Homo sapiens: one gene and its partner. The protein of the gene in region 1 purifies or fractionates together with the protein of each later gene. This does not show direct contact. Each region holds a gene or a part of one and is shown in the gene's direction. Other genes may lie near its edges. The genes, in order: OR13J1 and SLC41A3.

Region 1 (3,146 bases):
AGGGGAGGGGGAGGCTGGGTATGGGAGGGTGGGGGAGGACAAGGATGGGTATGGGAGAGTGGGAGGGGTGGGTGAGGCTGGGTACGGAAGAGTGGGGGGACGGTGAGGCTGGGTATGGAAGACTTGGGGGTCCTCTCTGCCTAGGAAGGGTTTGCACTCAGCAGCCTGGGAGCACACCTGTCATCAGTGCTCCCTCACATCTGGCACCACCTGACATGTAGCAGGTCCTCAGTTACTTCTAGGTTCTGGGATGAGTAAGTGAGGGTGGAATAAAAGACGGAAATGGTCTCCTGCAAGGAAGGCACTGAGAGGAACTGTGCTCCACCCAGGCCCAGGATTTGGCATCGTGTCCCATGGGATTAATGACACCGTGCCAGATACCCTGGAACACTAAGGAGAGGTGACTCATGCTCTTTTGCTGGTGAGAGGATTGTGGCAGCACCTGGGGCACTGATATCCATCTAGAATGGTAAAAGAACAAGCATTGTTTGAAACCTAATAGAAGCATACACCTGCTCTGAGCATGGTATAGGGGTCACACTGTTGGGAGGGCTGGATTCTAGCTTCACCTCACCAGAGACCTGTTGTGTGACCTCAGCATCCCCATCTATACAATGGGAGATCCAACAAGTTGGCCTCTGGTCATGTTCCATGCTAATACCCTAGGAGTTCATGAAGTCAAAGCAGCCCTCGCTCTGGCCCACAGAACATAGGGGTTTGGAGCTGGGCCAAAAGCTCCATCAGATTTTAGCTGGGAAACCCACAGGAAGGCAGATTGTGAAGGTCCAATCCACACAGGGTAGCTAATGAAACAGGCCCTGGGCAGGGGACAGGGGAACATGCCCAGCGATAGGCTTCAAGGTCAGCAGCCCTCCAACACACAGCACGGTGTATGCTTTGTTCATGGATACTAGAGTAGGCCTGAAGAGACAGGTCAGACCACTGCAGGCCGAGGACATTCCAGACAGAAGGAATAGCAAATGCGATGGCTCAGAGGCTTCCTTAAAGCCAGGAGAATCTCCACCTGCTCAGAGACCACCTAGCCCACTAGTTCCTCAAAGTGTGGTACCTACATCAGCAGCAGAAGCATCGCCCAGACGCACCGAGTCAGAAACTGGGTTTGGGGCCCAACAATCTGTTTTAACAAACTTTCCAGGTGATTCTGGTGCATGTTAAAGTTTGAGAACTGTTGATCTAGCCTACTGTTTCCCAGACTATGCTCATAGAACACTTATCTGCAGTAGGTTAATGGGTTTTCTGTAAAAGGGGATCCATGATCAAATAAGTTTGGGGTACAGATGTTCTACATTGCTTTGCAGGAGTCATAGATCACATTAGCGTAGTAAACGCTCTGAGAAGTCCTGCAGTAAAGAGCTTTATTTTTTATTAATCCAATGTTGTCTCAAATTGATTTTTCAGATTGCTTACTAATGTTCTCATTAACATTCTCTCAGGGAATGCTGATCTAAATCAATGCTCATTTTTCACATGGATAAACTGAGGCCTAGAGAGGATAAAGGGATTGCCCGACGTCACAGACAGTGAGTGTGGCAGTGCTGGAAAAGATCCTGACAGTCCACCTCGTCCCAGAAAGGGCTCTGTGAGCTTCCCCGCACCCTGTACCCTCTCTCCTTCCATCCCAGCTGTGGACCATCTCTTCAGAACTCTGCAGCATGGAGCCGCTCAACAGAACAGAGGTGTCCGAGTTCTTTCTGAAAGGATTTTCTGGCTACCCAGCCCTGGAGCATCTGCTCTTCCCTCTGTGCTCAGCCATGTACCTGGTGACCCTCCTGGGGAACACAGCCATCATGGCGGTGAGCGTGCTAGATATCCACCTGCACACGCCCGTGTACTTCTTCCTGGGCAACCTCTCTACCCTGGACATCTGCTACACGCCCACCTTTGTGCCTCTGATGCTGGTCCACCTCCTGTCATCCCGGAAGACCATCTCCTTTGCTGTCTGTGCCATCCAGATGTGTCTGAGCCTGTCCACGGGCTCCACGGAGTGCCTGCTACTGGCCATCACGGCCTATGACCGCTACCTGGCCATCTGCCAGCCACTCAGGTACCACGTGCTCATGAGCCACCGGCTCTGCGTGCTGCTGATGGGAGCTGCCTGGGTCCTCTGCCTCCTCAAGTCGGTGACTGAGATGGTCATCTCCATGAGGCTGCCCTTCTGTGGCCACCACGTGGTCAGTCACTTCACCTGCAAGATCCTGGCAGTGCTGAAGCTGGCATGCGGCAACACGTCGGTCAGCGAAGACTTCCTGCTGGCGGGCTCCATCCTGCTGCTGCCTGTACCCCTGGCATTCATCTGCCTGTCCTACTTGCTCATCCTGGCCACCATCCTGAGGGTGCCCTCGGCCGCCAGGTGCTGCAAAGCCTTCTCCACCTGCTTGGCACACCTGGCTGTAGTGCTGCTTTTCTACGGCACCATCATCTTCATGTACTTGAAGCCCAAGAGTAAGGAAGCCCACATCTCTGATGAGGTCTTCACAGTCCTCTATGCCATGGTCACGACCATGCTGAACCCCACCATCTACAGCCTGAGGAACAAGGAGGTGAAGGAGGCCGCCAGGAAGGTGTGGGGCAGGAGTCGGGCCTCCAGGTGAGGGAGGGCGGGGCTCTGTACAGACGCAGGTCTCAGGTTAGTAGCTGAGGCCATCGTATGCCAATGCCAGTGAAGACATGGCAGGGCTGGGGCTACAGGTCTGGTATCTTCATCCCAGCAAGGCAGCACCAAGTCCCGCTGATCCTGCCACAGAACAGCCCCCAAATCACCCTCTGCTCTCAGCATCACCCTGGCCTTCACACCAGCCTCCTGGCTGGTCCCAAGACTTCAGTCCTGTTCCTCCCTCCAATCTCTCCTTCATGGGGCATCTTTTTGAAATGCACATGTGATTGCATCACTCTTCTCACTGAAATCCCTAGGTGGCTCCCCACTGTTCTCAGAACAAAGTGGAAGCTTTTCAGTGGGGCATTTGAGGCCCTCACAAGCTGGCCCTGCCTGACTGGCTCCCCAGCCTTCCTCCCCTCCCACCCCATCTCCCTCCTCACAGCCACACACACCAGCCAGTTGTGGCCCCCACATGCCCTGCACCACCCAGCTCTGTGCTCTCCTTGTTTCTCCCCACGAGGCAGCACCC
Region 2 (3,820 bases), on another chromosome or scaffold:
GAAGAAACAGCCTTCAGAGGCTCCTAGGCAGCCCCTGCGTGTCCACAGTGTCCCTCCTCCCTTGCTCCCTTAGGGGACCATGTCTTTATTCCTTGCATGTCAGTGGGCCACCCAGCGTGTCCTCACCCCAACAGTGCCAAAGTGCCTTCACATTGTGCATGAGAACAGCAACAGAGGGCTTATTACGTTGGAGTGATTTTTTGGGATGAGTCACCAACTCGGATGCCTTCAGTGGCCAAACAATCTGCATGAATTATGCAGCTAGACAGTGAGAAATGGCAGGGGTAAGCTGCAGAATGCATTTCTCATATGAACAGTGTGGTGCCTGTCCAGCTCCAGCCAGTAGTTGCCTCGGGAGAGTGTAGGTCCAGACTTGCCAGTGCTGACTTGGGAAGAGAAGCTGGGAATCTGTATTAAGGGCCTAATTTGTAAACAGTACCAATTAATTTGAGGTTTTTTTTTCCTTTTTCTTTTTAAAATTATGTATGGGCCAAGCCGAATAGATCGCAGCAGTCCTCTGCCTGAAGACAATTGTTTGCATCCTCTAGAACAGCCTGTGTGGTTGGCCTCTGCCTGAGAGGTCACTGGTGCACACCTGGCCCAGCTAGGGAGAGTTCTCCATGGCACTGAGCAAGTAGGATAGGGGAATCCCCACCTTCCATCAGCCCGCCCCCGCATCTGCCCCCACAGAAGGAATGCTCAGCATGGCCTTTGTCAGCTGGACCATCTGGCCCGGGCAGAGCTTGAAACCTTTTTCATACCCTGTGGGATCCCGGAGTCTCAGCAGGAAGCCCTGGTGTTCCCAGAGACCGCATGTGCTCATGGTTTTCTGGGCCTCATGACTCTGCCTCTAGGGTTCTGTGTTCTATGCCCTGTCAGTCTACACATGACCCCGCTCGTCCTGTTTCCCCTAAAGCCACTTGCTCTGGGCACACACCCAAAGCATCTATGAATGTGGGAGTTTGCACTGACAACTGAGCTCCGAGAGAGGGGCTCACCTAGCACCACAAATTGAAATCATGCAGCAGACAACGTCTTTTCTTCAACGCTCTCAGACCACACAGCCATGAGAGGTGTCCCAGGCATGTCTCCTGCCGCATGCTTGCTTTGCCACCTGCCTGTGATCATCTCTGTCCTCCCCTCACCTTCCCTCTCATTCTTTTTTTTTTTTTGAGACAGAGTCTTACTCTGTCACCCAGGCTGGAGTGCAGTGGCGTGATCTTGGTTCAGTGCAATCTCTGACTCCTGGGTTCAAGTGATTCTCCTGCCTCAGCCTCCTGAGTAGCTGGGATTACAGGTGTGCACCACCATGCCCAGCTAATTTTTTTTGTATTTTTAGTAGAGACAGAGTTTCACCATGTTGGTCAGGCTGGTCTCGAACTCCAGACCTCAAATGATCCACCCACCTCAGCCTCCAAAAGTGCTAGGATTACAGGCATGAGCCACCATGCCTGGCCCCCTCTCATTCTTATCCACTGTCTTCATTCCTCCTCTCTCCTTCCCACCTTGAGTGAAAAAAAAAAAATCACTTTCATTTTCTCAGATATTCCAGGCTGTAGTCTGTTTCCTGTCAATGCCTGTGGCCTTGAGGTCTGACTTATCCAGACTGCCTTATCACACTATTCTCAGACCTTTCTATCCACTCTCCCCTCATCCTTACTTTGTCCCTGGATCCCCTCCCTCCCATCCTCGCTCCAGCCAACAAATACTTATTGAGAACCTACTTTACAGCCGCACTCCCCTCACCTTAAGAGATGCCAGCAGTCAAGGTGATGCAGTTACTCCCTGGATACCTCACTCACAAGCTCTGGGCCACCCTGACTTGCTGCCAAACAAGATCTGTGGTCAAGTGGGAGGAAAGGAAAAGATAATGAAATACTGAATTAACCAAAGAAGACTTCCTGGAGGAAGGGAACTTAAAATAAGGGATACAACTTAGAGACTGGCGTAAAGAAAGGGAAAACAGATTCCTTTTCTCCTCGTAGGTGTTGGTGGCAATCTGGTGGCCATTCAGACCAGCCGAATCTCAACCTACCTGCACATGTGGAGTGCACCTGGCGTCCTGCCCCTCCAGATGAAGAAATTCTGGCCCAACCCGTGTTCTACTTTCTGCACGTCAGGTGGGTGTCATGTCTTTCAGAGGCCATGATAGCCATTTCTTTAAACAAGAAAACATCGGTGTCATTGGAATCTGGTGTTTGTAGCAATGGATGCCTGAAGCCAGGGCTGATCTCGGCACACATCACCTTCAGGGCCCCAGAAATGAGACTCCCCGGCCCTGCCTTTCCTTCATTCCTTCATTCAATTATTTATTGAATGTCCACTGGGCACTAGGTGTTAGGTTAGTGGTGAAACAGGGAGAGCTGATTTCTTGCCCTTGAAGTACACAGTATAGAAGGGCAGATAAACACAAGTGGGCTCGTAATTAAAAATTATGTTGGGTACCGAGCAGCAAAAGTGCAGAGTGCAGTGAAAAAGAATTAGAGGAAATACACTTGGGATAAGGAAGCTCCTCCCTGAGGACAAGTGGGTGTTGTTGGGAGGAGGAGGGCAAGAGAAGAAGGGGCTTTCAGGGCAGTGGGTGCAGTCTAGCAAAGGCCCAGAGGCAGGAAGGAGTGTGGCAAGTCTGAAGAACTGAAAGGCCAATGTGGCCTGAGCTGAATGGACAGGAGGGGATGAAGGAGGCTGAGGCCAGAGAGGCCGGAAGGAGGTGATCCGACAGAGCCTTGGAGTTGAGGAAGGAACCTGGATTCTACTCAGAACCACTGGAAGCTTTTGGAGATGTTGTGTCTTTTTGTTGGCTTTGAAAAATCAGATCTTCTTTCCTGTTACATTGTTTTGGATTTCCTTTCTAAGAACTACCTTTAGCCTTCTTTTGGGTTGGCTGTTGGCACATTTCTGAAGGATATTTTCACTGGTTGTAAAATTCGGTGTCAATAGTTGTTTTCAAACACTTGAAAAATGTGCCACTTCCTTCTGATTCCATGACTTATGATGAGAAATCTGCCATTTCAATTTATTTTGCTGTATAGGTATGGTGCCATTTCTCTCTTGCATATTTCAAGACCTTGTCTTTAGTTTCTAGGAGTTGGATTATGATATGTATTGGTATGGACTTTTTGGGGTTTATCCTATTTGGGGTTTGTTAGGCTCCTTGAACACATGGATTTATATCTTTTGTCAAATCGGAAAATTTAAGCCATCACTTTTTCAGCTGCACTCTCCTTCTTTTTGATATTCTAATGACATGAATGTTAGATCCTCTGTTACAGCCCCACAAGTCCCTGAGACTCTGTTTGGTTTTTGCAAAGTCTATTACTCTCCTTGTTTAGATTGGCTCATTTCTATCACTTTTTTCTCCAAGTTGACTGATCTTTTTTCCCCTGCCCTCTCCATTCTGCTATTGAGCCTATTCACTGAGTTGTCTGGGACTTTTGGGGGTATTGTATGTGTTTAGTTTTAACATTTCCATTTGGTTCTTCTTTCTTTCTATCTTCTTTTTCTTTTCTGAGACTTTCTATTTCTTTGCTTATACTTTCTATTTTTTTGTTTGTTTCAGGTGGGTTTGTGATTGCATGATGAAGGATTGTTGTAGTGGCTTCATTAGAACGGCTTTCAGGTGATGCTGACGTCTGTGTCGTCTCACTCTGCTGTCTGTTGGTTGTCTTTTCTCATCCAGGTTGAGATTTTTCTTGCTCTTGGTAAGATGAGTGATTTTCATTTGAATCCAGACATTTTGGGTATTATGGACAAGACTTTGGATCATGTTTGAATCTCTACTTAGCTGGCTTCCTTTGACACTGCACCACTGGGGAGAAGG

What was found.
Region 2: the proteins of OR13J1 (region 1) and SLC41A3 purify together in Homo sapiens (affinity purification with mass spectrometry; one large-scale study listed by BioGRID and IntAct). This does not show direct contact.

What each region holds. Positions count from the first base shown.
Region 1 is NC_000009.12:35,868,929-35,872,074, reverse strand, and holds OR13J1 (olfactory receptor 13J1), read left to right. Parts: upstream 1-1,673; coding exon 1,674-2,612; downstream 2,613-3,146. UniProt on the Homo sapiens protein: Odorant receptor.
Region 2 is NC_000003.12:126,010,915-126,014,734, reverse strand, and holds part of SLC41A3 (solute carrier family 41 member 3), read left to right. Parts: intron 1-1,985; coding exon 1,986-2,120; intron 2,121-3,820. UniProt on the Homo sapiens protein: Na(+)/Mg(2+) ion exchanger that acts as a predominant Mg(2+) efflux system at the mitochondrial inner membrane.